Linked DNA regions of Homo sapiens. The protein of the gene in region 1 purifies or fractionates together with the protein of each later gene. This does not show direct contact. Each region holds a gene or a part of one and is shown in the gene's direction. Other genes may lie near its edges. The genes, in order: ZZZ3, DR1, KAT8, TADA2A, KAT2B, ZNF608 and KANSL1.

The links.
Region 2: the proteins of ZZZ3 (region 1) and DR1 purify together in Homo sapiens (affinity purification with mass spectrometry; 2 studies listed by BioGRID and IntAct, with this or other methods). This does not show direct contact.
Region 3: the proteins of ZZZ3 (region 1) and KAT8 purify together in Homo sapiens (affinity purification with mass spectrometry, with the first as the bait; one large-scale study listed by BioGRID). This does not show direct contact.
Region 4: the proteins of ZZZ3 (region 1) and TADA2A purify together in Homo sapiens (affinity purification with mass spectrometry; 4 studies listed by BioGRID and IntAct, with this or other methods). This does not show direct contact.
Region 5: the proteins of ZZZ3 (region 1) and KAT2B purify together in Homo sapiens (affinity purification with mass spectrometry; 2 studies listed by BioGRID). This does not show direct contact.
Region 6: the proteins of ZZZ3 (region 1) and ZNF608 purify together in Homo sapiens (affinity purification with mass spectrometry, with the first as the bait; one large-scale study listed by BioGRID). This does not show direct contact.
Region 7: the proteins of ZZZ3 (region 1) and KANSL1 purify together in Homo sapiens (affinity purification with mass spectrometry, with the first as the bait; one large-scale study listed by BioGRID). This does not show direct contact.

The regions. Positions count from the first base shown.
Region 1 is NC_000001.11:77,574,659-77,578,158, reverse strand, and holds part of ZZZ3 (ZZ-type zinc finger-containing protein 3), read left to right. Parts: intron 1-1,938; coding exon 1,939-2,091; intron 2,092-3,500.
Region 2 is NC_000001.11:93,355,907-93,359,406, forward strand, and holds part of DR1 (protein Dr1), read left to right. Parts: intron 1-3,500. UniProt on the Homo sapiens protein: The association of the DR1/DRAP1 heterodimer with TBP results in a functional repression of both activated and basal transcription of class II genes.
Region 3 is NC_000016.10:31,127,664-31,131,859, forward strand, and holds the end of KAT8 (histone acetyltransferase KAT8), read left to right. Parts: intron 1-386; coding exon 387-476; intron 477-2,353; coding exon 2,354-2,494; intron 2,495-2,603; coding exon 2,604-2,697; intron 2,698-2,792; coding exon 2,793-2,943; intron 2,944-3,082; coding exon 3,083-3,237; coding exon of another isoform or gene 3,238-3,329; exon of another isoform or gene 3,330-3,531; coding exon 3,532-3,596; 3' UTR 3,597-3,696; downstream 3,697-4,196.
Region 4 is NC_000017.11:37,437,886-37,441,385, forward strand, and holds part of TADA2A (transcriptional adapter 2-alpha), read left to right. Parts: exon of another isoform or gene 1-73; intron 74-2,619; coding exon 2,620-2,777; intron 2,778-3,500. UniProt on the Homo sapiens protein: Component of the ATAC complex, a complex with histone acetyltransferase activity on histones H3 and H4. Required for the function of some acidic activation domains, which activate transcription from a distant site. Binds double-stranded DNA.
Region 5 is NC_000003.12:20,120,446-20,123,945, forward strand, and holds part of KAT2B (histone acetyltransferase KAT2B), read left to right. Parts: intron 1-2,222; coding exon 2,223-2,359; intron 2,360-3,500. UniProt on the Homo sapiens protein: Functions as a histone acetyltransferase (HAT) to promote transcriptional activation. Has significant histone acetyltransferase activity with core histones (H3 and H4), and also with nucleosome core particles.
Region 6 is NC_000005.10:124,645,640-124,649,139, reverse strand, and holds part of ZNF608 (zinc finger protein 608), read left to right. Parts: intron 1-6; coding exon 7-2,461; intron 2,462-3,500. UniProt on the Homo sapiens protein: Transcription factor, which represses ZNF609 transcription.
Region 7 is NC_000017.11:46,036,430-46,039,929, reverse strand, and holds part of KANSL1 (KAT8 regulatory NSL complex subunit 1), read left to right. Parts: intron 1-45; coding exon 46-228; intron 229-714; coding exon 715-903; intron 904-1,243; coding exon 1,244-1,392; intron 1,393-3,500. UniProt on the Homo sapiens protein: Non-catalytic component of the NSL histone acetyltransferase complex, a multiprotein complex that mediates histone H4 acetylation at 'Lys-5'- and 'Lys-8' (H4K5ac and H4K8ac) at transcription start sites and promotes transcription initiation.

The DNA.
Region 1 (3,500 bases):
TGTTATATTGAGGGCTCTGAGCCAGACTCTACTGTTCTATAACCTTTTATTTGGTAAGGAAACTGGGCCCTCAGGTATGTTGAGTGAATTATCTAGTTGCTTAGCTGCTAAGTCTGGGAACCACTGATTCTCTCCCATTCTGATGCCACACTTTTTCCACTTTTCTCTGTTGCTTTCTACAGTGGAGAAGCTACTGTTTCTTTCCCAAACAGGACACTACATTAAAATGTAGCCAGTTTCGGCCGGGCACGGTGGCTCACGCCTGTAATCCCAGCACTTTGGGAGGCCGAGGCGGGTGGATCACGAGGTCAGGAGTTCAAGACCAGCCTGGCCAATATGGTGAAACCCCGTCTCTACTAAGAATACAAAAATTAGCCGGGTGTGGTGGCACGCACCTGCAGTCCCAGCTGTTCGTTCTTGTAATCGCAAAAAATAAAGACACCTAATTGGCTGTTTTAAATTTTCTTAATAAGTTATCCTGTTACTTTTCCCTCCCCACCACTGACATCTTTCTCATAAAGAGAAGCTAAGAGTATATCTAGTGCTGTTATCCTTCCATACTGAAGCTATTTCATGTAATTTTACATTAAGAATATTGTCTATACAGTTTCATGTTTTACACATTAAAAAAAAATTTTTTTTAACCGAGCTTTGGAAGCTTGTTTTAATTTGCCAATTGTTTTAAATATTTTGGGTTTCCCACCAAATATAGCACAACCTGTGTAGATTTGTAGAGTTCATCCTATAACTGTGGAATATTGGAACCTTACATTAACCTGTGTTTAATGTAAGAGCTCTTATTTTCATGGTTAATTTCTAAGCTAATTTTATAGATGTAACCATGTTTTCATCATTAACACTGGATAATGATAACAAAAGGAATACTGGAGAACGTACATGTGTTTTTTTCCCTTAGGTGTACTGTATTTTGGCTGTGAAGATCTAGTACAGCTATATTTACAATGATTGCTTGCCATTGTTAGAGTTTAAATTTGGAAACAGGTGAAATGATGGTTCTTCATGTAGCTGAGGGTGTTCTTTGTGACTGTGCTATTGATCAAGACAGGCAGGCTGCATAGTGGTGGAAAGTGAGAATTTGGGCACCACATAGGCCTAGTTTATAATCCTGGTTCTACCACTATCTAGCTGCAACACACTGAACAAGAAACTTAACCTCCCTGTCCTCAGTTTTCTCATTTTTAAATTAGAGGTGATGATAACTACGTTATAGGAATGTTGTAAGGATTAAATGACATTGGCATAGAGCAAGCTTGTCCAACCCATGACCCACGTACCACATGTGGCCCACGACAGCTTTGAATGTGGCCCAACACAAATTGGTAAACTTTCTTAAAACATTACAAGAAATTTTTTTTTTGTTGTTTTTTTGTTTTTTTTTTTAGTGTGAGTGTATTTTATGTGTGGCCCAAGACAATTCTTCCAATGTAGCCCGGGGAAGCCAAAGATTGGACAACCCTGGCATAGAATAAGCAGTCAATCAATGTTAGATAAGTATTTTCAGATATTCATAATGTTATAGAAATTTTCCTTTTACTTTTTACTGGATAGTTTTATGTCTGGCATAGGCCACTTCATCCTGTCTGATCTTCTATAAGATGATCATAAGAATTCAGTGCAGCCAGCATTTGACTGCCAAGAGTATGATAAATGCTGGGGATACAAATATAAGCTAGATATTAAACATGTGGTCCATTTTACCGTTGTTGGGGTATTTCCCCTACATTTAAAAAAAATTTTTTAAAGCTAGTTATGCTTTAAAAACGCAGAAAACAGAAAAAGCAACAACATAAGAGTATGCTAAAGGATAGAGTGAAATTCTTCTGATAGACTTGTTGGAAGTAACATTTGTATTTTTATATTTTTGATTCTTGTAATGATTTTTCACTGAACCAATTAAAAATTTGTTTTCTTACTTAGTCTTCAACAAGCAGACGACAGCACCCTCTTAATAAGCATCTCTTTAAGCCTTCCACTTTCATGACTTCACATGAACCGCCAGTGTATATGGATGAAGATGATGACCGATCTTGTTTTCATAGCCACATGAACACTGCTGTTGAAGATGCATCAGTAAGTTATACACATCAAGTTGTTATATACATCAAGGTATAGAAGAGAGTAGGATTTTCTAATTATTTCCACTCTTCAGAGAATGTTGGTTTCTTTTAATGAACAAGTCAAATGTATAGTTTTTAAGTAATGTACTTTTGTGAGGAAAATTTCAAACATATACAAAAATAGAATAGTATAATGAACCTTAACAATTATCAACATGAAGCTACCTTATTTTAATCTCTACTCCCTACCCACCTCAACTCTGCTCTGGATTATTTTGGAGCAAGTCCCAGATATTACACAATATAATTATCATGTTTATAAAAGGTAATTTGTTATACAGTGAAATATATAGTCACTGTTCATGATTTTTTTTCTAATTTCTTCATTTGGGTTTGGATCCAAATAAAGCCCATAAATCACAATAGGTTCATTCTCCCTCTTTCACTTTCCTTTTTTCCCTCTCCCAATGTTTTTGTTGAAGAACTGGTTCATTTGTCTTATAGAATTTTGCAGTATGGATTTTATTGATTACATCTTCTTGTCATTTAATCTGTTCCTCTGTTTTCTGAACTTCCTGTAAATTCATAGTAGGTCAAGAGCATTGATGAGATTCAGATGTATTTGTTTGTTAGGGTGGGCAGGACTACTTCACGTTTACTTTCATCAGCCTGGTTGTCTCTTTTTTTGGCATAACAGCCACTGATCATTGACTAAATTGATTAATTCATTAGATGTTACAGAATAGTGATTATGCTATCATTTCTTCATTTACTTGCTGGACTATTCTAAAAGTAATCCCCCTGCCCCCTAGTCAACTATTTGGTTACTCTGAGGTACATATAGAAAAGGTGGGATAATTGCTCAATTCTCCCTTTTTTTTCTTTTTCTTTCTTTTTTAGGCAGAGTCTCGCTCTGTCGCCCAGGCAGGAGTGCAGTGGTGCAATCTCGGCTCACTGCAGCCTCTGCCTCCCAGGTTCAAGTGATTCTCCTGCCTCAGGCACCTGAGTAGCTGAGACTACAGGCATGTGCCACCATGCCCGGCTAGTTTTTGTATTTTCAGTAGAGGCGGGGGTTCACTATGTTGGCCAGGATATTCTCGATGTCCTGACCTCGTGATCTGCCTGCCTCGGCCTCCCAAAGTGCTGAGATTATAGGCGTGAGCCACCATGCCTGGCCTGTTTTCTGGTTTTTAAAATAATGAGTTCATTTTCTCATATCCTTCAAAGATGACCAATGAGGTTTAAAAATTTTTTGTATTCTTATGAACTATTGGCCCTAAATGTATTTAATGTATTTCAATTCATTGATGTTACTGCCTTTGTTAGTGTTCAAAGTGGCCCATCTTTGGTTTGTTGTAGCCTATTTAAGTTGGCTTATAAGTTCTTTTGATAAGACTCTAATAGTGTTTAATAGCTTAATAC
Region 2 (3,500 bases), about 16 Mb from region 1:
ACAATGACAGCCTCATTTGAAGCTAGCAGCAAATATTTGGAAGGAGGGAACCTTTAATACATCAAGATTAAAGTTAACTTTAAATTATAAATGAGTCATTTTAATATGTGGGAGTGAGAATCTTAAAACATAATGAAAACCTCCAAAAGAAAAGTGAATTAGGAAATACATGCCTGCTTACCTGTCTTTCACACCCCAATTTTAGAAGAAAAATACTTGGGATGGATTGAGTAGGGGGCAAGAGAGAAAAAAATATATTACAGTAAATATCACTGAAAAATGTTCAATTTGTGGAAATGAATACAAATAAAATTTTATCAATCAACTTTTTTTTTTTTTTAAAGAGACAGGATCTCACCATGTTGCCCAGGCTGGAGCACAGTGGCTATTGACAGGCTCGATCAGGCACACTTCAGCCTAGAACTCCTGGGCTCAAGGGATCCTCCTGCTTCAGCCTCATGAGTAGCTGGGACTATAGATGTGCACTAGTGAGCCCAGCTCAACAGTTAGTTTTAAAGGCATAGAAATGTTTTTATGTTCAGAGAAAAGTATCAGCGCTGATACAGGGCCGTGGTAGCTAAAAGTCAATTAAATTTGAAATGTAACTAGTACACAGCTTTGCAGACCATTGAATAGACTACCAAATCAAGCACCTTTGCAGTAAAACCTTTGTAGAGACTTGAAATTATTTGAATTTTTTCCATGTCACAAAATTATACCAACTTGTAGTTGATTAGACCACAAAATATAGGTATGCTTATGTTGGTTGAATTTATGTATTTGATTTGCCCTGCAATTTTCTTATGAACTCTTACAATTTTTTTTTTTTTTTTGAGATGGAGTCTTGCTCTGTTGCCCAGGCTGGAGTGCAGTGGTGCTATCTCGGCTCATTGCAACCTCCGCCTCCCGGGTTCAAGCGATTCTCCTGCCTCAGCTTCCCAAGTAGCTGGGATTACAGGCATGCACCACCATGCCTGGCTAATTTTTGTATTTTTAGTAGAAACAGGGTTGCATCCTGCTGGCCAGGCTAGTCTCAAACTCCCAACCTCAGGCGATCCGCCCACCTTGGCCTCCCACAGTGCTGGGATTACAGGCATGAGCCACCGCGCCCGGCCTTAAAATGTTTTTAGCGAAGCTCTGTTAGTTGGTTTTGAACTCTGGATATTCCTGCCGTAAAAGTAAATATGCTATTGTGTTAGAATCAACTATTTTTCCTATTTCTTTACAAAAATGGATGACAGTCATTATTAGGGAGAATGGATGGTTTCTAATTTCCTAAGCAAAATGAAGTTTTTGTTTACTGTAAAAGTTGTCTTATCCTTGTTTTTTCTAATATCTATAGTCTTTTCCTTACTTATTTCTTCCTCTTTGCCTTTAACCATATACGGGTCTTCTGCATTTCCTTGTATCCCCCAAACCCTTTCATCTTTTGCTATAATGATCTGTGTTACCCACCAAGCAAGGTGGCACCTTCCTGTAGTCCCAGTTACTCGGGAGATGGAGGCAGGACAATCCCTTGAGGCTAGGAGTTCAAGGTTGCAGTGCATAACAACTATGCCTGTAAATAGCCACTGCACTTTAGTCTGGACAACATAGCAAGACCCCATCTCTAAAATAAATAAATAAATAAATAAATAATGATCAGTGCTACCATTTTTTGAAAATGTACAATCACTTATTCCTCAAATTTAACTTCTGTCCTACCACAGAGGCATTTAATCACCAAATTCAGTAATTTTTTTTCCTTTCAATTCTTACTCATCTGTTTTTTTAAAAATAACATTTAATGTAGACCTCTTCCTTTATTAGTCTCTGATACTATGGTTACTTGGATAGCTTTCCCCCAAGGTAATAGCTTTTCTTCTTCCACTTCACTACTGCCACCTACACCAGCACCACCCTACTCCTGCCCTTCAGTCAACAAATTTCAAGTCAGAATTCAATTAACATGTCCCTACTGTATGTAAGACATATGTGGTACTATAGATATAAAAAAAAATGAAGAATATATCATTATGAGACTGACTACTTGGATGAGGAAGATAACTATAATATGAGGCTGACCACTTATGAGAAAGAGATTCTGGCTGGGCATAGTGGCTCACACCTGTAATCATAGCACTTTAGGAGGCCCAGGTGGGAGAATCACTTGAGCCCAGGAGTTTGAGACCAACCTGGGCAATATAGTGAGACCCTCTCTCTACAAAAATAGAAAGAAAGAGGGAAGAAGGAAAGAGAAAGAAATCCCAAGTATGGAAACATTACATCAAATTTTAGGGGTACAGGAGTATGCCAACTAGTAAGCAATTATCTTAGCTCCAGACCCACCTTTCTATGCTCTGCTTTGTGACTGGACCTAGTACTCTGCAAGCCACATGTTTCTTTGCTAGCTGACTCTCCATTAGACTCTGTTGCCATATGGGGCTATCGTGGGAGATTGCATGGATGGAGGAAGAGAAAGGGTTTTCTCTTACTTTCTCTTGTCTTTCAGTTCCTTTGAACAACCCAGCAACACTTCTTCACCCTGGTTGCATCAGTTTTCCTGTAGCAGAGACTGAACGCGGTTTGCATTTTCTCTAATACACCACCAGCCTGAACCCGCACCCCATCCCCCCACTCTGGCAGTGTGGATCCCAACCCTTGGGGCCCTCCTCCAAGCGCAGATATATTAGTACTAGCTTATCTATGCCCATTCTTCCGAGGCCTGAGTTTCAGTTCCATGAAGTGGTTTCTTAAGCTTCTAAATTTTAAAAATTCCAGCATTTTCCTTTATTCCCTCAGTTTTAGGGTTGGTGGCTGCTTCCTGTAGCTGCTACTTTCATGACATCTTCATGTTCTCTTCCTGCCTTTTCAGCTCCCTAATAACAACTTTATACTTGTTTAACAATTCTTCGTATTAAATTTTTTCCATTCCAGTAACTCATGTGACATCTATCTCTTGATTATACACTGACTGATGCCAGGAGGAGAAAATAGTATTTCAGTTTGACTTGAAGGAAGGGTAGAATTTCAGTAAGTGGCAGGAAATTTCACATAGGATGAGTGTCAGCATGAGTAAAGGTAGCAAAGATGAGGAAGTATGGTGTATATTTGGGAAACATTTTGTGTTCTAGGCTTTTTTGAAGCACAAAGTACATGTTACAAAAAAAGACTATAGAGAGGTTGGGGTAGACACTAATTTGGAAGACCTTGAACTCTAGGCTAGGAAATTTGGATTTGATTGATAACAAATGATTTTTTTTAAAAAAATGAAATAGTGACCTGATTAGAATTTATATCTAGAAATGTTTGGATAATAAAGTCATGACAGATTATTCAGAAGAGTGAGGATTGTACATGGTAAAATCTTAAATGTTACTGGTTATGCTGGGCATCACTGTTTTCCTGTAGCATGTTCATTCAGAAAATACTGAGGGCCTTTATGTTAGGAATGCAACAAAGAATATGGAAACAATCTCTATTCTCAAGTGTGGTGGAAAAAAAGGATATAAACTTAGATA
Region 3 (4,196 bases), on another chromosome or scaffold:
GACCTTAAGTGTGGATGAAATTGGGGGCTGTCAGGAAGGGGCGCTCTCATCACTGACACAGTGGGCTGCTTCCCGAAGTGTGGAATCTGAAGCGAATAGGTGTGGTTTAGGGAAGCCATTGTCATGGACGGGTCCCTCCAGAGCCAGGCCCACAGAGACTCAAAACCCCACCGTGCTGTGTGATGTTTGGATCTCTGTGCCTGGGCCTTGGTCTGTAAAAGCAGGATCACTTTCCTAAGGCTGCTGGGAGGATTACTCGATGTAGGTGAAGTGTTGAGGGGGGAAACAGAGAGGCAGAGACTTGCTCCAAAGCATGCAGTGGTGGGTTGGGTGCCTCCTAGCAGAGAACATATGGGCAGCGAACCTGTTCTCTTGTCCCCGACCAGGGTCAGTGCCAGTGGCGGCAGCCCCCCGGGAAAGAGATCTACCGCAAGAGCAACATCTCCGTGTACGAAGTTGATGGCAAAGACCATAAGGTGAGTGGGTGGCCAGGGGTTGGGAGAGGCCGGGGAGGCCCTGGGCACCTCCCAGATGATCCTCATCACCACCAAAGGGGAGGGGGCAGCCTTAGCTGAGCCTCTATGGGCAGAATGCCTCTGAGGGGCCGGGCACTGCAGCTCACACCTGTAATCCTAGCACTTTTGGAGGCTGAGGTGGGCAGATTGCCTGAGCTCAGGAGTTTGAGAGCAGCCTGGGTAACATGACGAAACTCCTCGACTAAAAATACAAAAAATTAGCTGGCGTGGTGGTGCGCACCTGTAATCCCAGCTACTCGGGAGGCTGAGGCACAAGAATTGCTTGAACCTGGGAGGCAGAGGTTGCAGTGAGCTGAGATTGTGCCACTGTACTCCAGCCTGGTCGTCAGATTGAGAATCTGTCTCAAAAAAAAAAAAGAAGGCCTCTGAGGGCCTCCTAGCCTGGCACTAGGCCTGTAGTTGGTGCATAGGAAACACAGGGCCTTGTGGTGGCCCCAAGACTCTTCTGCTGGTGGGGTTAGGTTCAAACTTGGGTTGTTCTGGAACCCAGAGGAGATTTTCTTGCCTGAGGCTGCTTTTAGAAGTGCTCTCTCCTTCCGTTGGAAAGAAAGGTGTTTGTTTTTGCCTGGGAGGGGACTGCTTTGTGTGAAATTTCCTCCTGAGAGAGCTCTGTGGCTTTCAAGGTTTGAGTTCCTTGTTCCTGGCCCCGAATGACTTCAGCAGGGCAGGTTGGGGCCTTTGGGACCTGCCTAGCTGTTGTAGAGAACTTGGCCTTTGCCTTATCAGTCTGGGAGGGTCTGGCCAAGTGTACTGGTTTCCCGCAGATGGGCCATACAGCACAGGACAGAGAGGGCAGGCTTCAGGGTGGCTCATGTTGCCTTGTCACTTCCTCACTGACCACAGACAAGTTACTTAACATGGTTTGTTCCTGTTTCCTTGTCCATAAGACGGGAGTCATAATATTTAATATTTACCTAGTTGTGTTGTTAGTGGAATAAATGAGACAGCAAATGTCAAGTGTTTAGTGCAGTGCTTAGCACTAGTATGTGCTTAATAAACACGGGCCTTGTTATTATCGGTGACCTCTTGGGGCTTGATTAGCCTTGGACTCGGAGAATACGCAGGCTGAGCCCAGCCCTTGCCCCTGCTCTGCCTTCCTGAGCATGGCTGTGTGGAATAGCAGAAGGGCCCCCGCTGGAGATGTGGGGGTGCTTTCCAACTGCGCTCTGCCAGCTTTGAGGCTCTGGGCAAGCACTTCCACTCTGGGAGCTTCAGCTTCCTCCTGAGTAAGATGGGCCTGGCAGTGCTGGGCTCGCACAGCTGCCGGGTTGGATGAGAGAGTGGCTGTGGTGTCATAAACCAGGGAGCCCCTTAGTGTGTGCCGTGAAGCCAAACTCGGTCCCATTGTCCCCCTCCTGGAGTGCAGCCAAGTGGACAGACAGGGCTCGAGGTTCCTCCATTCAGCAGACGTTTACCAGGCACCCAGCTTCATACTTAGACTCGTGCTAGGCGCTGGGGACACAGCCATGAACAGGACGGTCTAAATTCCTGCCTCGGAGCCTCAGTTTCACGAGCTGAAACAGAGTTAATGTCTGTGAAGACTGAAGCAGATCCTGCATGGAAGGCACCCAGCTCGTATTTGGCACTCAGAAGGGGTGGCCGGGCTTCATCCAGCTCCACTGGCACCTCCGAAGTGCTGTTGCTCTCTCATTTCCAGTTCCCTGTTCGTCAGAGGCTGACCGAAGACTCCTTCCAGTGTGAAATCCTTCTGGCCTGGCGAGGCGCCCACTTCGCGTGGGCTGGTGCCGGCCGCTGGAACCAGCTGGGTGGGGCCTGTGCCTGCCCCCTGAGCCTGTCTCCCCCCTCCTCAACCCTAGATTTACTGTCAGAACCTGTGTCTGCTGGCCAAGCTTTTCCTGGACCATAAGACACTGTACTTTGACGTGGAGCCGTTCGTCTTTTACATCCTGACTGAGGTGGACCGGCAGGGGGCCCACATTGTTGGCTACTTCTCCAAGGTGCTGGGTCTGGAAACTCGGGGTGGGGAGGGTGGGGAGGGCGAAGGTGGGCATGAACAGAGAGTGGGGCAGAGCCTCCCCAGCGGCCCTGAGCACCTGCCTCCTGCAGGAGAAGGAGTCCCCGGATGGAAACAATGTGGCCTGCATCCTGACCTTGCCCCCCTACCAACGCCGCGGCTACGGGAAGTTCCTCATCGCTTTCAGTGAGTGGTTCCTGGCCTGTCTGGGAGGGGGAGACCTGTGGGGCAGGGGTGCCAGGGCAGGCTGGATCCTAAGTTCCTCTTTCTACTGCTGCCAGGTTATGAGCTCTCCAAGCTGGAGAGCACAGTCGGCTCCCCGGAGAAGCCACTGTCTGACCTGGGCAAGCTCAGCTACCGCAGCTACTGGTCCTGGGTGCTGCTAGAGATCCTGCGGGACTTCCGGGGCACACTGTCCATCAAGGACCTCAGGTGAGGGGGCCTCCCGGGCCCTGGGGGCAGGACTTGCCCTGAGATGGGCCACGATCCTGCTTCCTCATACCCTGTCACCATCCTGGCCAGATCCCACAAGGGCACCAGGTCTGGCATTTGCTCTCATCCCTTTTTGCAGCCAGATGACCAGTATCACCCAAAATGACATCATCAGTACCCTGCAATCCCTCAATATGGTCAAGTACTGGAAGGGCCAGCACGTGATCTGTGTCACACCCAAGCTGGTGGAGGAGCACCTCAAAAGTGCCCAGTATAAGAAACCACCCATCACAGGTGGGTGGGGGGCTGCTGTGTGTCGGGGGCGGTGGGGGAGTGTCAGTATATGGACTGGTAGGAGTCAAGGCCTCCTTATTGCTGTCACATGATCCCAAACCAGTCAGACCAGCTCCCAGGATGGAGCCCGGGGCAGGCCTCTCATTCCTGGGCTTCCCTACCCCTCCCCAGCACAGCCTGCCCTTTTGTTCTCACCTGGAGGAGGTGAAACTGGCCTGAGCCCAGAGGAGGGCAGCCAGGTGTGAGCTGGCCTGGCCCAGGCCCAGCCCTGCCTCCCGCCCCTTCTCCCCACAGTGGACTCCGTCTGCCTCAAGTGGGCACCCCCCAAGCACAAGCAAGTCAAGCTCTCCAAGAAGTGAGCAGCCTGGCCCCTGCTGTCGGACCTGAGCCTCCTGGCTCCCAGCCTGTAAATATGTATAGACCTGTTTTGTCATTTTTTTAATAAAGTCAGTTCTGGTGGCCCTGGACTTTGGAGGGGAAGGGGAGGCCAAGAGCGGATGTTCTTCATTTCACTTCACACATGCACGGCAAGTTGTGCTCAAACATTTTAATCATTTCTGCCCTGTTACTCCCACCCCAGATCCAAGCGCCAGCCCAGTTCCGGTGGGGGCTCAGTCCTCCGGAGTCCAGGAGTCAGGGCTCGGGGGCGCTCAGCGGCCAGTGGGCAAGATTGGGGCCTTTCCTGTCCTCGAAGCTGCACAAAGGTGGCCCCAGCCCAGAACACAGGGAGAGGGCAGAGAGATGTGCTCATCAGTCTGGGCAGGCGGGCCGGGAGCAGTCTTCCAGAAACAGGTGGGAGCCAGGGCTCATTTTCATAGCCAAGGGTCCCAGGAGCTCCCCAGGAGCTCGGCCAATGGGCTGGTCCATGGTGGGTGAGGGGCCAGAGGCTCTGGCCATTGCTACAGGCAGTAAAACTCCTGACTCTCAGTGATGGTCCCAAAAAGCACACCCAGAAGAAT
Region 4 (3,500 bases), on another chromosome or scaffold:
TGTTGAAGAGTAAAGGAAGGAACCTCAGGAAGAGAAAGTATGTGTTGCTTTCCTATCAACCCATGATTTAGAGGCAAGTTAGTCCCCTCTGTACATTATTTTTCCAGTGTCGAAATGTGTCACGAGGATATGGGATGTTTAGCGGTCCATGACTGAGCAGCTTTAAAAGGCCACTTTGGATGTATCAACAGTGGGAAGATTGATTATTATTCCTTTCTGAATAGTAGGGAAGTTTAGTTTCGTTAGTTATTACTCCCTTCTGATTTTATGAATTTTTGTTAGTTGTAGATGCCCTAGTCATTTAAGTGAATCAGACTTTAGCTAGATGGTCATACGTAAGATTCAAGTTTCACAGACTTCCTGATAGCATTCTCTGTTTTTAGCTTTCAAACACCTACCTGCCTTAGTCCAAAACCGGCGGAATTGAATAGCACTTATTGCTGTTGACCTAGGGGGCAGCACCACTTAATACTACCACTTTCGTTTTTATCTTTTGGGAACACTTTCATATGGATGCTTTTATTTTATGAACTAGATAGCAGAGGCATTATTGAATATATTTTGTTCACAAATTATCTGAAGCCTAGGGGGTTGAAATGATTTCTTGTGATTACATAGCTTATTACTGAAGGACTCTTAATTAGGTCCTCCCTGTCCTGACTTACTAGTGTATATAACCTTTCTTGGTGTTCATCAGAATAAACTCTGCTGCCTGCCTCCCTTATGTCCAGGGACCTGAAGAAGGAGACCTGAATTTAGTTCACATTTTGCTTGTATTCATTCATTCAGTATTTATTAAGCATCATAAAATACTGTGTACAATGAGAAATACCAAAGGAGGTAGAAAAGTAATCACTTGTGAGGAGTTTGCTAGTCATCTTTGGCCTAGTTTTTCATTTTTTGCTTACCATTCTCTCTAAAATAGTCTAAACCTCTCTGTCCTCCTTCCCTCTTAACAAAGAACATAAAAAAGACATAGCTTCTCTATCCGCTGTGGGTAAGGCACTAAGTTTGGCAGTGAGTGGGCTAGAGCTAAGAATTATGAGATGCATCCTGTCTTCAGAAAGCTTATAGTTTAGCAGGGGACTTAAAAATACAAGTGATTGAAGTACACAAAACAGCACAGTGATGCCTTAGGGGAGGTCAAGTGAAATGCTGTGAAAAAGAGACCTTGAGGAAAGGACTTCCACCTGTACCTCTCCATTACCTTGGCTCAAGTCAGGGATTTTTTTTTATTGAGACAGTCTCACTTTATCACCCAGGCTGAAATGCAGTGGTGTGATCACAGTCACTATAACCCCGAACTCCTGGGCTCAAGGGATCTTCCCTCCTCAGACTCCCAAGTAGTTGGAACAACAGGTGTGCGCCACCATACTCAGCTAATTTTTAAATTTTATTATTATTATTATTATTTGGAAACAGGATCTTGCTCTGTCGCCCAGGGTGGAGTACAGGGGCATGAGCTTGACTCATTTCAGCTTCAACCTTCCAGGCTCAAGTGATCCTCCCAGCTCAGGCTCCCGAGTAGCTGGGACTACCGGCGTGTGCAACCACCCCTGGCTAATCTTTGTATTTTTTGTTGAGATAGGATTTTACTGTGTTGCCCAGGCTGGTCTCGAACTCCTGAGTTCAAGCCATCCTCCCACCTTGGCCTCCCAAAGTGCTGGAATAACAGATGTGCCCCACCATGCCTGGCCAGATTCTTAAGCAAGTTTCTTAATTATTTTGGGCCTCATTTTTCCTTCTTTGAAATTGAGATAGTAACAATATCCATACCACAAATTTGATACTAGGTTTAACTTAAATTCTGTTGTGAATGTTTCTAGCTCAGTGTCTGGCATCTCATAGCAGCTCTAGTAAAGAAATGTTTATGTTAAGTGTTTGGTAAACCGTAAAATATTAGGCAAAATAAAACTATATTTCTGTATATTTTGAATGTTCTGAAGTCACTTCTTATTATTTACAGCAATTATTTCTGTAGGGCCTAGCTCACAGGAAAATTTACAAATTTTCCAGTCATCTTTATTTATTTATTTATTTATTTATTTATTTATTTATTATTTTTTTTTTTTTTTGAGATGGAGTTTCGCTCTTGTTGCCCAGACTGGAGTGCAATGGCGTGATCTCTGCTCACTGCAACCTTTGCCTCCTGGGTTCAAGCAATTCTCCTGCCTCAGCCTCCCAAGTAGCTGGGATTACAGGCATGCATGCACCACCACGCCTGGCTAATTTTGTATTTTTAGTAGAGACAGGGTTTCTCCATGTTGATCAGGCTGGTCTCTAACTCCCAACCTCAGGTGATCCACCTACCTCCCAAAGTGCTGGGATTACAGGTGTGAGCCACTGCGCCTGGCCTCAGTCATCTTTCTTTAAGTGGAAAAGAAAGGACTTTTTAGTCATTATTTCTGTGTTTTAGACTAGCAAGATATGGAACACCAGATTACACCAATCTAGGCTTATATTTATGTCATTTTTCTGCTGATATCTTTTTGATATCAATTTGGAAATATGAGAGTATATTATATGGATGTGACTTAAAATATGAAAAGAGCAAATGATGCTTTTAGTATTATGTGTAAATACAAGTACCACTTCTCTCTTTTTCCCACAATCCTCTAGGCAGGATGTAGCCAATCAAATGTGCACCAAGACCAAGGAGGAGTGTGAGAAGCACTATATGAAGCATTTCATCAATAACCCTCTGTTTGCATCTACCCTGCTGAACCTGAAACAAGCAGAGGAAGCAAAAACTGCTGACACAGCCATTCCATTTCACTGTAAGTGCCTCCCTATCTTGATAAGATATACTTAGCTCATCCTTGGGCCCTGTTTCAGTAGCAGATAAAGAGTGATTTGATGACTTGGACAGCTAATGATATCACGGAAGATAGGAGGAGTTAGTATGGCAGCTATTGAGAGTCAGGATCGACCCAGCATGGTGGCTTGTGCCTGTAATCCCAGCACCTTGGGAGGCTGAGGCGGGTAAATCACTTGAGGCCAGGAGTTCAAGACCAGCCTGGCCAACATGGCGAAACCCTGTCTCAACTAAAAGTATAAAGATTAGCTGGACGTGGTGGCAGACACCTGTAATCCCAGCTACTGGGGAGGCCAAGGCAGGAGAATCACTTGAACCGGGTAGGCGGAGATTGCAGTGAGCCAAGATCACATCACTGCACTCCAACCTGGGTGACAGAGTGAGACTTCATCTCTTAAAAAAAAAAAAAAAAAGAGTCAGGATTATAATGTGGCAAAGAAGGAACATACTCTAAGGGTCAGAGTTCTATACAGGACATCAAGGTGCTTGAAGCCAATGTGTAGTTCCACCTACCTTGAGTCCTTTGAACATATCAGTTAACTTAGTGCTTTCCTTTGTAAAATAAGATGTCAAAAAGGGAAAACCTTTTCTATGCTATTATGAGTGCAAGTTTTTTTTCAATCCCTTTGGAGAGCTTATGATTATACATATGAGTTGCTTAGAGAATACAGTATTTGACTCATTA
Region 5 (3,500 bases), on another chromosome or scaffold:
TCAAACTCCTGACCTCAGGTAATCTACCTGTCTCGGCCTCCCAAAGTGCTGGGATTATAGGTGTGAGCCACCATACCCTGCTGACTTCTGCCTCATTCTGTCGTCCAAAGCAAGTCACGTAGTTGAACTCAGAGTTGAGAGGTGGAGAAGTGGAAAAAGGTAGTCTATTCCTTTCGTAGGAATAACTGCAAAGTCACATAGCAAAGAGTGTAGATACCAGGAGGGTAAAGAATTTGGCCATTAATGTAATCTACCACATGGGCAAAAATATCTCTTGAGCCTAGAAGCATTTCACAGTTAGAGAATGTTTTGAAGGTTGCATTTCTGTCCACAGACTTGACGTCAGACAAATCTTGGATGTGACCAAATTTTTAAATAAAAGAAGTACCATGAAAGAGGGAAAGAAGAGGACCTTATAATATAAGAAGTGCCATATATTTAGCATATGCCACCATTCCCTTTCACTTCCAAGGGAGATATCACTAATTCATGCAGAAACTCTTTACCAGTGAGCTTGGATTCAGCCTCAGACTTTTTAAAAAAAATCATAAACACCATTAGCAGTCTAACAAGCAGAGGGCATATCAAGTACAAACCCCAGCTACGAAATAAATAGTTTTCAGCATTACTCTTAGGGAATCATGGAATTTGAGGACTTATTGGTCAGATGTCTGAAAATATTGTTACTTGTCTCCAAAAACAAACAACAAAAAATTGTAAAAAAAAGAACTCGACAAAAGTGATTTAGTAAATAATATGTAATACTTCTGGAAGAATCGTCTACAGTCAAGTTACTTTATACTGTTCTGCTCCTTTTCAACTAGAGATAGTGAGAATGCTATGTGGAGAATGTTATATTGAGATAGCAGTGGGATTCACATGTGAGGAAATAAATTAGATCTAGACATCTTAAAAATTCAAAAAATTTACTTGTAAAAATAAATACATGTTATGTCTGGAAAAAACTGGAAAAACCAAACATGAGAATAGAAAGGAGAAAAAAACTACCATGCAATCTCATGAGGAAAGCGGAAGAAAGTTCTCTCTGCCTTTGCATGGCTCTCCTATTGTGTGGAATGGTGAGATTGCATCTACTTGATAGGCTAGTGGTCCTGCTCACTTTGTGAGGCATCATTTTAGGGCAAAAAAGCATTGTAAAAGATAAAGTGTGTCATTTTATAATAGAAAATTAAATCCATAAATTTGTTTATTAAAAATAATTTATGGTATATTTCAAATATATAGCTATATATACATAATATATATGCATACATACACATATGCATATGTGTGTGTGTGTGTGTGTGTGTGTGTGTGTGTGTGTGTGTGTGTGTGTGTATAGCCAAGCCCAGCACAGAGATTCCAATCAGTGGGTAGACTCATGAACAAGCCTGCCAAGATTGAATGAGATGAGCTGAAATCAGCCACCCATCAGGAAACATACGAAATGAATGAGCTATGATAGTAAGTTATTATGGTTTAAGACTCATTTGGGGTTGGTTTATTACATAGCAATAACTAACCAATAAAGCCCAAAGCCTAATGCAAACTGATTTCCGTACATATATGGTGGGGTGCCGGTGGGGGCGGGGTGGAATTAACATGACTACAAGGAGAAATAATCAAATCAACCAACGGTTGAGGCTTTAAACAAACAACTGAGTAATTCATAGGTCAAACAGACAAAAATATCAGTAAGGCTCTTACTGATATCCATACAACATGATCTGTAAGCTGAAGCTAATGGAGTTATAGAGATCAAAATATGAAAATACACATTCTTTCCAAGAAGACACTGCACATTTACAAAAGATTGGTCTTATTTTAGGTCATAAGGTAAAAATTTCAATCCATTTTGACGTTTTGGTGTCATATGGACCATGTTCTCTGACCTTGAAGAGACTATATTAGAGAGTACTAACAAACAATAGCTAGAATCACCCCTTTGCATTTGCAGATGAAGGAACATGTGCCTTAATATTTCATGTATCTAGTTAAAAATCATCATAGAAAGTAGAAAATATTCACAATGAATTGGGTTGGCAGTTATTGTGAGCTCACAATGGCTCTCTTTCCTGTCTTCCTTTGTCACCCCTTCCCCTGGTGGTAAAGATAGAGTTGACCTCCATGCCCATCAATGCTGTTAGAAAATTAGTTGGCGTGTATTATTTGTTTTGTGTTTAGAACCACCCATTGTTTGCCTTTTATTTTGATCATCATAGGAGAAAAGAGGAAAATGACTGATTCTCATGTTCTGGAGGAGGCCAAGAAACCCCGAGTTATGGGGGATATTCCGATGGAATTAATCAACGAGGTTATGTCTACCATCACGGACCCTGCAGCAATGCTTGGACCAGAGGTCAGCAGGGTAAACCTGGGCAGCCAGCTGGTAGACCTCTTCTGCTCTCCTGGCCACTCCAGCTGTCAGAAGTGGGGATGCTAATGCTGAGAGTTAACATGTTATGCTACCCTGGTTTGCATTTAACCTGGTGGTCAGTGTGGAGAGGGCAGGAACAACTGATCAAGAGGTAATTCCCCTTGATGAATATCACATCACAGGTCCACTTACTAATAATCTCACAGTTGAAGGCATCATTCCCAGCTTTTTATCTTGAAAAATTTCAAGCCCTCATAAATGTTGCAGAAATTCTGTAATAAAAATCCATAGACTCTTTACTGAGATTCAGCAGTTAACATTATGCCACATTTGCTACCTCTCTTTCTCTCTGCGCCTCCCCATATGCTCTTTTTCTTTCTCTCCCCACTCCCCATGAACCATTTGGAACCATTTCAGAATTAAAAACACATGTCATAATACTTCACCCCTAACTATTTTTGCATGTACTGTATCTCATAAGGAAGCTATTCTCTTACATAACCACAATGCAGTCATTACTCTTAGAAAATTTAGCCTGGTTACAATATTTTCTAATACAGGGTTGGTGAATTACAGCCTGCAAGCCAAATCTGCTCCACTGGCTGTTTTTTTCAAATAAAGTTTTATTGAAACATATTGTTTGCAGCTGTCTTTGCATTACAACAGTAAATTTGAATAATTGAGACAGGGAATGTGTGGCTTGCAAAGTATGAAATATTTATTATCTGGCTTTTCACTGAAAAGTTTGCTGACCTCTGGCCTAATATAAAACCGTATTTAAATTTCCCATATAGCCAGATGATGTCAGTTATAACCTTTGTTGTTGTTGAAGGATCAGTTAGGGATTGTGCATTGCATTTAATTCTTATCTCTTCATTTGTTTAGTCTCCTTTAAAACAACTCCCCAGCCTTGTTTTGGTCTTTTGCAGCACTGCCATTGGTGAAGAGTCTTGGTCGCTAGTTTTGTATAAGGTCCCTCTTTTTGGATTTGTTGATTGTTTACTAAGGATTAGATTCAAGTAAGGCATTTTTGGTAAAAATGCTGCTGTCATCTCATTGCCTTGCATCTGAGGGCATGCAAGGCAATGACATTTCTTAAGACATACCTGTCTTAAGACATTTC
Region 6 (3,500 bases), on another chromosome or scaffold:
CCATAGGTTTTGTGAGTCACCGACAAGTGACCTGGAGATGAGAGGGGGCCGGGGCAGAGGGAAGAGAGCGAGGTCTGCTGCTGCTGCCCCGGGCTCCGAGGCCAGCTTCACAGAGTCCAGAGGGCTGCAGAATAAGAACAGAGGGGGGGCCAATGGGAAAGGGAGGCGGGGCAGCCTCAATGCCAGCGGACGAAGGACACCCCCAAATTGTGCTGCTGAGGATATCAAAGCCAGCCCTTCCTCCACCAACAAAAGGAAAAACAAGCCTCCAATGGAGCTGGACCTGAACTCCAGCTCTGAGGACAATAAGCCTGGAAAGCGTGTCCGCACAAATTCCAGAAGCACTCCCACTACCCCTCAAGGGAAACCAGAGACTACTTTTTTGGACCAAGGCTGCTCTTCTCCAGTGTTAATCGACTGTCCCCACCCAAACTGCAACAAAAAGTACAAGCACATTAACGGCCTGAGGTACCACCAGGCTCATGCACACTTAGACCCAGAAAACAAGCTGGAGTTCGAGCCTGACAGTGAGGACAAGATCTCGGACTGTGAGGAAGGATTGAGTAATGTGGCACTTGAATGCAGTGAGCCAAGCACAAGTGTATCTGCTTATGACCAGTTGAAGGCACCGGCATCCCCTGGTGCTGGAAACCCACCTGGGACCCCAAAGGGAAAGAGAGAGCTGATGAGCAATGGCCCAGGTTCCATTATTGGTGCTAAAGCTGGGAAGAATTCTGGCAAAAAGAAGGGCCTTAACAATGAACTGAACAACCTTCCAGTAATCTCCAACATGACGGCTGCGTTAGACAGTTGCTCGGCAGCAGACGGCAGTTTGGCTGCTGAGATGCCTAAACTGGAAGCAGAAGGATTAATTGACAAGAAAAATTTAGGAGATAAAGAAAAGGGCAAAAAAGCTACCAACTGCAAAACGGACAAAAACCTCTCTAAACTGAAAAGTGCCCGGCCCATTGCCCCTGCCCCAGCCCCCACTCCCCCGCAGCTAATCGCTATACCCACTGCAACCTTTACAACGACCACCACTGGGACAATACCCGGACTGCCCTCCCTCACAACAACTGTTGTTCAGGCTACACCAAAGAGTCCTCCGTTAAAACCCATTCAACCAAAGCCCACAATTATGGGAGAGCCCATCACCGTGAACCCAGCTCTGGTGTCACTCAAAGACAAAAAGAAAAAGGAGAAGCGAAAGCTAAAGGACAAAGAAGGGAAAGAGACGGGAAGCCCAAAAATGGATGCCAAGCTGGGGAAACTAGAGGACTCCAAGGGGGCCAGCAAAGATTTACCTGGGCATTTTTTAAAGGATCATCTCAACAAGAATGAAGGGCTGGCAAATGGACTGTCGGAGTCTCAGGAGAGCCGCATGGCCAGTATCAAAGCTGAGGCCGATAAGGTTTACACTTTCACAGACAACGCTCCCAGCCCTTCCATAGGGAGCGCCTCGAGGCTGGAATGCAGCACTTTGGTGAACGGGCAGGCACCAATGGCACCTCTGCATGTGTTGACCCAGAATGGGGCAGAGAGTTCAGCTGCAAAGACAAGCAGCCCGGCCTATTCAGACATATCTGATGCTGCTGACGATGGTGGTTCTGACAGCAGGTCGGAGGGTATGAGATCAAAGGCCAGTTCCCCATCAGATATTATTTCTAGTAAGGACAGTGTTGTAAAAGGGCATTCTTCAACTACAGCACAATCATCTCAACTGAAAGAGTCCCATTCTCCCTATTACCACAGCTATGATCCTTATTATTCTCCAAGTTACATGCACCCTGGGCAGGTCGGTGCCCCTGCAGCTGGAAATAGTGGGAGCACGCAGGGAATGAAGATCAAGAAGGAGTCTGAGGAAGATGCTGAAAAGAAAGACAAGGCAGAGCAGTTAGATTCTAAGAAAGTGGACCACAATTCTGCATCCTTACAGCCTCAGCACCAGTCGGTGATCACACAAAGACATCCTGCCCTGGCTCAGTCACTTTATTATGGCCAGTATGCATATGGGCTCTATATGGACCAGAAGTCTCTGATGGCCACCAGCCCTGCCTATAGACAGCAGTATGAGAAGTACTATGAGGACCAGAGGCTGGCAGAGCAGAAAATGGCCCAGACTGGGAGAGGAGACTGTGAAAGGAAAAGTGAGCTCCCCTTGAAAGAGCTGGGCAAGGAGGAAACTAAACAGAAAAATATGCCATCGGCCACAATCTCAAAAGCTCCCTCTACTCCGGAGCCTAACAAAAACCATTCTAAACTAGGGCCATCAGTGCCTAATAAAACTGAGGAGACAGGTAAATCGCAGCTTCTCTCCAATCACCAGCAGCAGCTTCAGGCCGACAGCTTCAAAGCTAAGCAGATGGAAAACCACCAGCTTATTAAGGAGGCTGTAGAAATGAAGTCTGTCATGGACTCTATGAAGCAGACAGGTGTAGACCCAACCTCGAGATTTAAACAAGTAAGATTGTGGAGCGTGGCCCCAACAGGGAGAGAGCAGTCTGAGACTTGTATTATACATGTCTGGGCTTGATCTGGTTAGACTTCTGACACAGGAAAGAAACCCATATTAGTTTTTTCCTCTGCTCTTGAAAAATATCTTAAGATTCTCAGGAGTTACTATGTAGCTCTAAAATGTACATTATCAGTATTTTCTTGTCATGGTGTATAGTAAAAGGAACTGTGGATGGGTGCTTTGCAGATTTGTGTTTCATGCCACTAACTTGCTCTGTGACTCTGATGAGGTCCATTAATTTCTTTTTTTAAATTTTTTAAATTTTTTGAGACGGAATCTCTCTCTGTCACCCAGGCTGGAGTGCAGTGGTGCAATCTTGGCTCTCTGCAACCTCCGCCTCCGTTCAAGCGATTCTCCTGCGTCAGCCTCCTGAGTAGCTGGGACTACAGGCACGTGCCACCATGCCCGGCTAATTTTTTGTATTTTTAGTAGAGATGGGGTTTCACCGTGTTAGCGAGATGGTCTCGATCTCCTGACCTCATGATCCGCCCACCCTGGCCTCCCAAAGTGCTGGGATTACAGGCGTGAGCCACCGCGCCTGGCCAGGATCCCTTAATTTCTTAGTCCAAGGCGAGGGCTTTCCACAATGGGGCTGCTGAATTCTCTTCTAACTCTGAGATTCTGAGTCTTATCTCTGAAATATTTATTTTCCATTTTCAAATTTCTACTAGCATCTTCTTTGAAGATAATAAAAACTGGGTCCCTGAATTCACATTTCCCATTAATCTTTTTAATAGAATTTGGGGCCCAAATTTCTTTCACATGGGGTCAGAGATGCCTAGATTTCAGTCTTACTCCCTATATTAAGTACCCCAAAACTCAGAGCTCAGTGCTGAATGTTTGTGAGGAGGGTGAGGAGGTTTGGGTGGCAGGCCTCAACAGCTGTCCCAGAGCCCCATGGGTCAGTCAGCTTGAGAACACCTGAAAATTGGTCACCACGAAACCACAAATGTACTAGCACCTTCTGTCATGGTTCAGACATCCT
Region 7 (3,500 bases), on another chromosome or scaffold:
GGCCAGGTGTTTGGACTAACCTGTAGCATTTTATGTTTCTTGCAGATGTTCCCACAAGCCTGCATTTCCAGAGCATGCTGAAATCTCAGTGGCAGAACAAGCCTTTTGACAAAATCAAACCTCCCAAAAAGTTATCGCTTAAGCACAGAGCACCCATGCCGGGCAGTCTGCCAGATTCAGCTCGTAAGGACAGGCACAAATTGGTCAGCTCCTTCCTAACAACAGCCAGTAAGTGTCAGGGAGCCGGGAAGTCCCCCAGAGTATCAGTGACTTTTCATTCCTTTTATATTCTCAAATTTGTAGTTTGCATGCATGTTGGGGTTGGGAGAGGCAGTTGACCGATAAAAAATTCAGCTCACAGTGACTGCTTCTGCTTGTCTTGGATGCTCTCAGATGGACTTCGGGAGCTATTCTAGACACCATGGATCTTGGAGCAAGACCCAAAATGCTCAGTGAACAGCCAGCAATGGCATGGCATTGAGTTCATCTACGGGCAGGTGTCTTCTGTATCCTGGTGACATGTTTCTCTGGTTCTGGGCTCCCTGTGCCTATCCTAGCCATTGTGCAAATTACTAGAAACTTCAGTCCTGAAGGACTGTCCTGCTGCCCTGGGTATACGGCGTTGGCCTAGAGAGAACTCGAGAGCTTGGAACTCGAATAAGAAAATATTTGAGAGGACATATTTCACAGCTCTTTTTCTGTTCCCCTCTTCAGAGCTGTCCCATCACCAAACCCGGCCTGACAGGACCCACAGGCAGCACTTAGACGATGTGGGGGCCGTGCCCATGGTGGAGCGAGTGACAGCGCCAAAAGCAGAGCGCTTGCTCAACCCACCACCACCCGTGCATGACCCAAACCACAGCAAAATGAGATTGCGAGACCATTCATCTGAGAGAAGTGAAGGTAGGGCCAGGCCCATGGCACCTCTACCTGCAACTGCACCTGCTCAGGGCTTTCTGGGGCAGCCTAGGCTTCTCTTAATTACCCCCAGCTTTGTCCTTCACTTTCTAGGAAAGCAGAGTAGAGGGACGCTACTGCTTCTAAATGGAGGTCACTTCTTAACTGCTACAGCAACCTCTGCCCTGCCCCTACTTCCCACAGCTAGTGTGCTTCACCTTTTTATCCTCTAGGCATAGAAAACATTTTTGCCTTTAGTATGTATTGCTGCCATTCCAAGCTTGTGTTAGAAGTAACGCTGGTTAAGATAGCCATGTATTTCTCTCTTTTCTGTTGACTTCTGCAGTGTTGAAGCATCACACAGACATGAGCAGTTCGAGCTACTTGGCAGCCACCCACCATCCTCCACACAGTCCCTTGGTGCGACAGCTCTCCACCTCCTCAGATTCCCCTGCACCCGCCAGCTCTAGCTCACAGGTTACAGCCAGCACATCGGTAAGTACCTGTGTGGGGTTGGCCGGACACCCCCTCTGCAGGTCACAGCTCACTCAAGTGGCTCCAGAGGACAGTGTGAGGGTGGGTTATAAAGCCCAGGGCATTTATAGGATCTCAGCTCATCATGACATATGTATGTATGTCTGTACCATTTTTAAGTCAAAGTCATGGTACTTGACCTTCTGTTGTTTTTCTTGAGTTGTTTTTCATAGCAGAGATGGATTTATGCTGAGCCATCCATAGAAAGCTTGATGCAGGGACAAACTCTTAAGGTGATCTGTGACTATTCAAGATCTGTTGGACTAAGTTTCACACAGGACTCAACAGTTCCGTGGCCCTAATCCTGTTGGCCCAAGAAGTGAACAAGAGAGGAGGGGTGGGTAGAGGGGAGATTCCCATGGGCGTTGGAAGCAGTGTTTGATTTCCTTGGTTTTACTCTCTGGGTGAGTGGAGGTGAAGTACTAAGAATAAACACTAGGCGTGAGGGTACCAGAAGAGAAGGGAAGGGAGAAGGCAGAGTCCATGCTTTTTAGGTATACAGAGCAGAATTACAGATCCAGCAGGCCCCCATGGCAGGACATTTGGCATGCACACACCAGATTTTACGATACCACACTCCATCTGGAAGCAGTTTGCACAGCTATTCCAGACACATTTCCTTTAATTTCATTCTAATATTTTAATTCCTCAAGTGTGCCCTCTTGGAACATACATACCTGTAGCTGCTATGGACCTACTCAAAGGGTCCTTTTTGTATAATAATTACAATGTAATGTAATGGTAAATGTAAAAGTCTGCAACTGTAATGTTTATTGAACACTTACTACATACCAGTGATCAGTGATTTACATGTGTTACATGTTATAATGCCTTTTGAGATGTAGGTTGGTACTGTGGATTTCATTTTATATGCATGAAAACTGTCAAGGCAACTTGTGAGGGTTATAATTATGATTCAAACTCAGGCAGCCTGACTGTAGAGCCAGCTCTTTTACCATTACACTACACAGGCTAAGCCTGGGTGAGGGTATTGCAGAGGCAACTTAGGAAGTTCCTTCAGAGCCTAGATCAGGAAACTTCCAAGCTCATAAAATGGACTCACTAGGCTCCTGTGATCAGGTAGGAATTCACATTGTTCTCTCTTTGCTGTTACAAATCAATCTTTTCCAAATGGTCTCTTTGCTCTTCGACTTTCTTTACCCCCGTAACCCACAAATTTTATCTAAATAGGTGTGTAGTGTCCCTCACATACTCAGTTATCCAGCAGCAAAGGGTTTCAGATAACCAAAGTATTTATAAAAAAGAGTCTAAACTAATTCTGATAGAAAATCTGAACTCAGAGATTCAGGACTTGGTGAGCACTTCAATATTTCTGTGTCTGGAGAATGTTAACTTAGGCCTGGATCACTTGAAATTTTTACCATTTATTGAGTAAAAATTTTGTGTATAGCACTATGCTAACCCCTGAGGCTCTCTCATTGCCAAGTTTTTTCAAAGACTCTGGATTTATGTAAAAGAAGATAGGCCAGGCACAGTGGCGCTCACCTATAATCCCAGCACTTGGGGAGGCGGCTGAGGCGGGTGGATCACTTGAGGTCAGGAGTTCGAGACCATCCTGGCCAATAAGGTGAAACCCTATCCCTACTAAAAATACAAAAATTAACTGGGCGTGGTGGCATGTGCCTATAGTTCCAGCTACTCTGAGGCAGGAGAATCACTTGAACTGGGAAGCGGAGGTTCCAGTGAGCGGAGATCAAGCCATTGCACTCAAGCCTGGGCGTCGCAGCAAGACTTCGTCTCAAAAAAAAAAAAAGAAAGAAGATAGGCCAGATAACAGCAGGCTCTCAGTATCTGCAGTATCTGCAGTGGGGATTGGTTCCAGGACCTCCCATAGATAGCAAAAGCTATTGTTGCTCATGTCCCTAATATAAAATGGCATAGTATTTGCATATAACCTATGTGTATGCTTTAAATCCCATATACTTTAAATCATCTCCAGATTACTGATAATACCTAATGCAATGTAAATGCTATAAAAATAGTATGCTGTATTGTTTAGAGAATAATGAAAAGAAAAATCTGTACCTTTTCAGTACAGACACAATTTT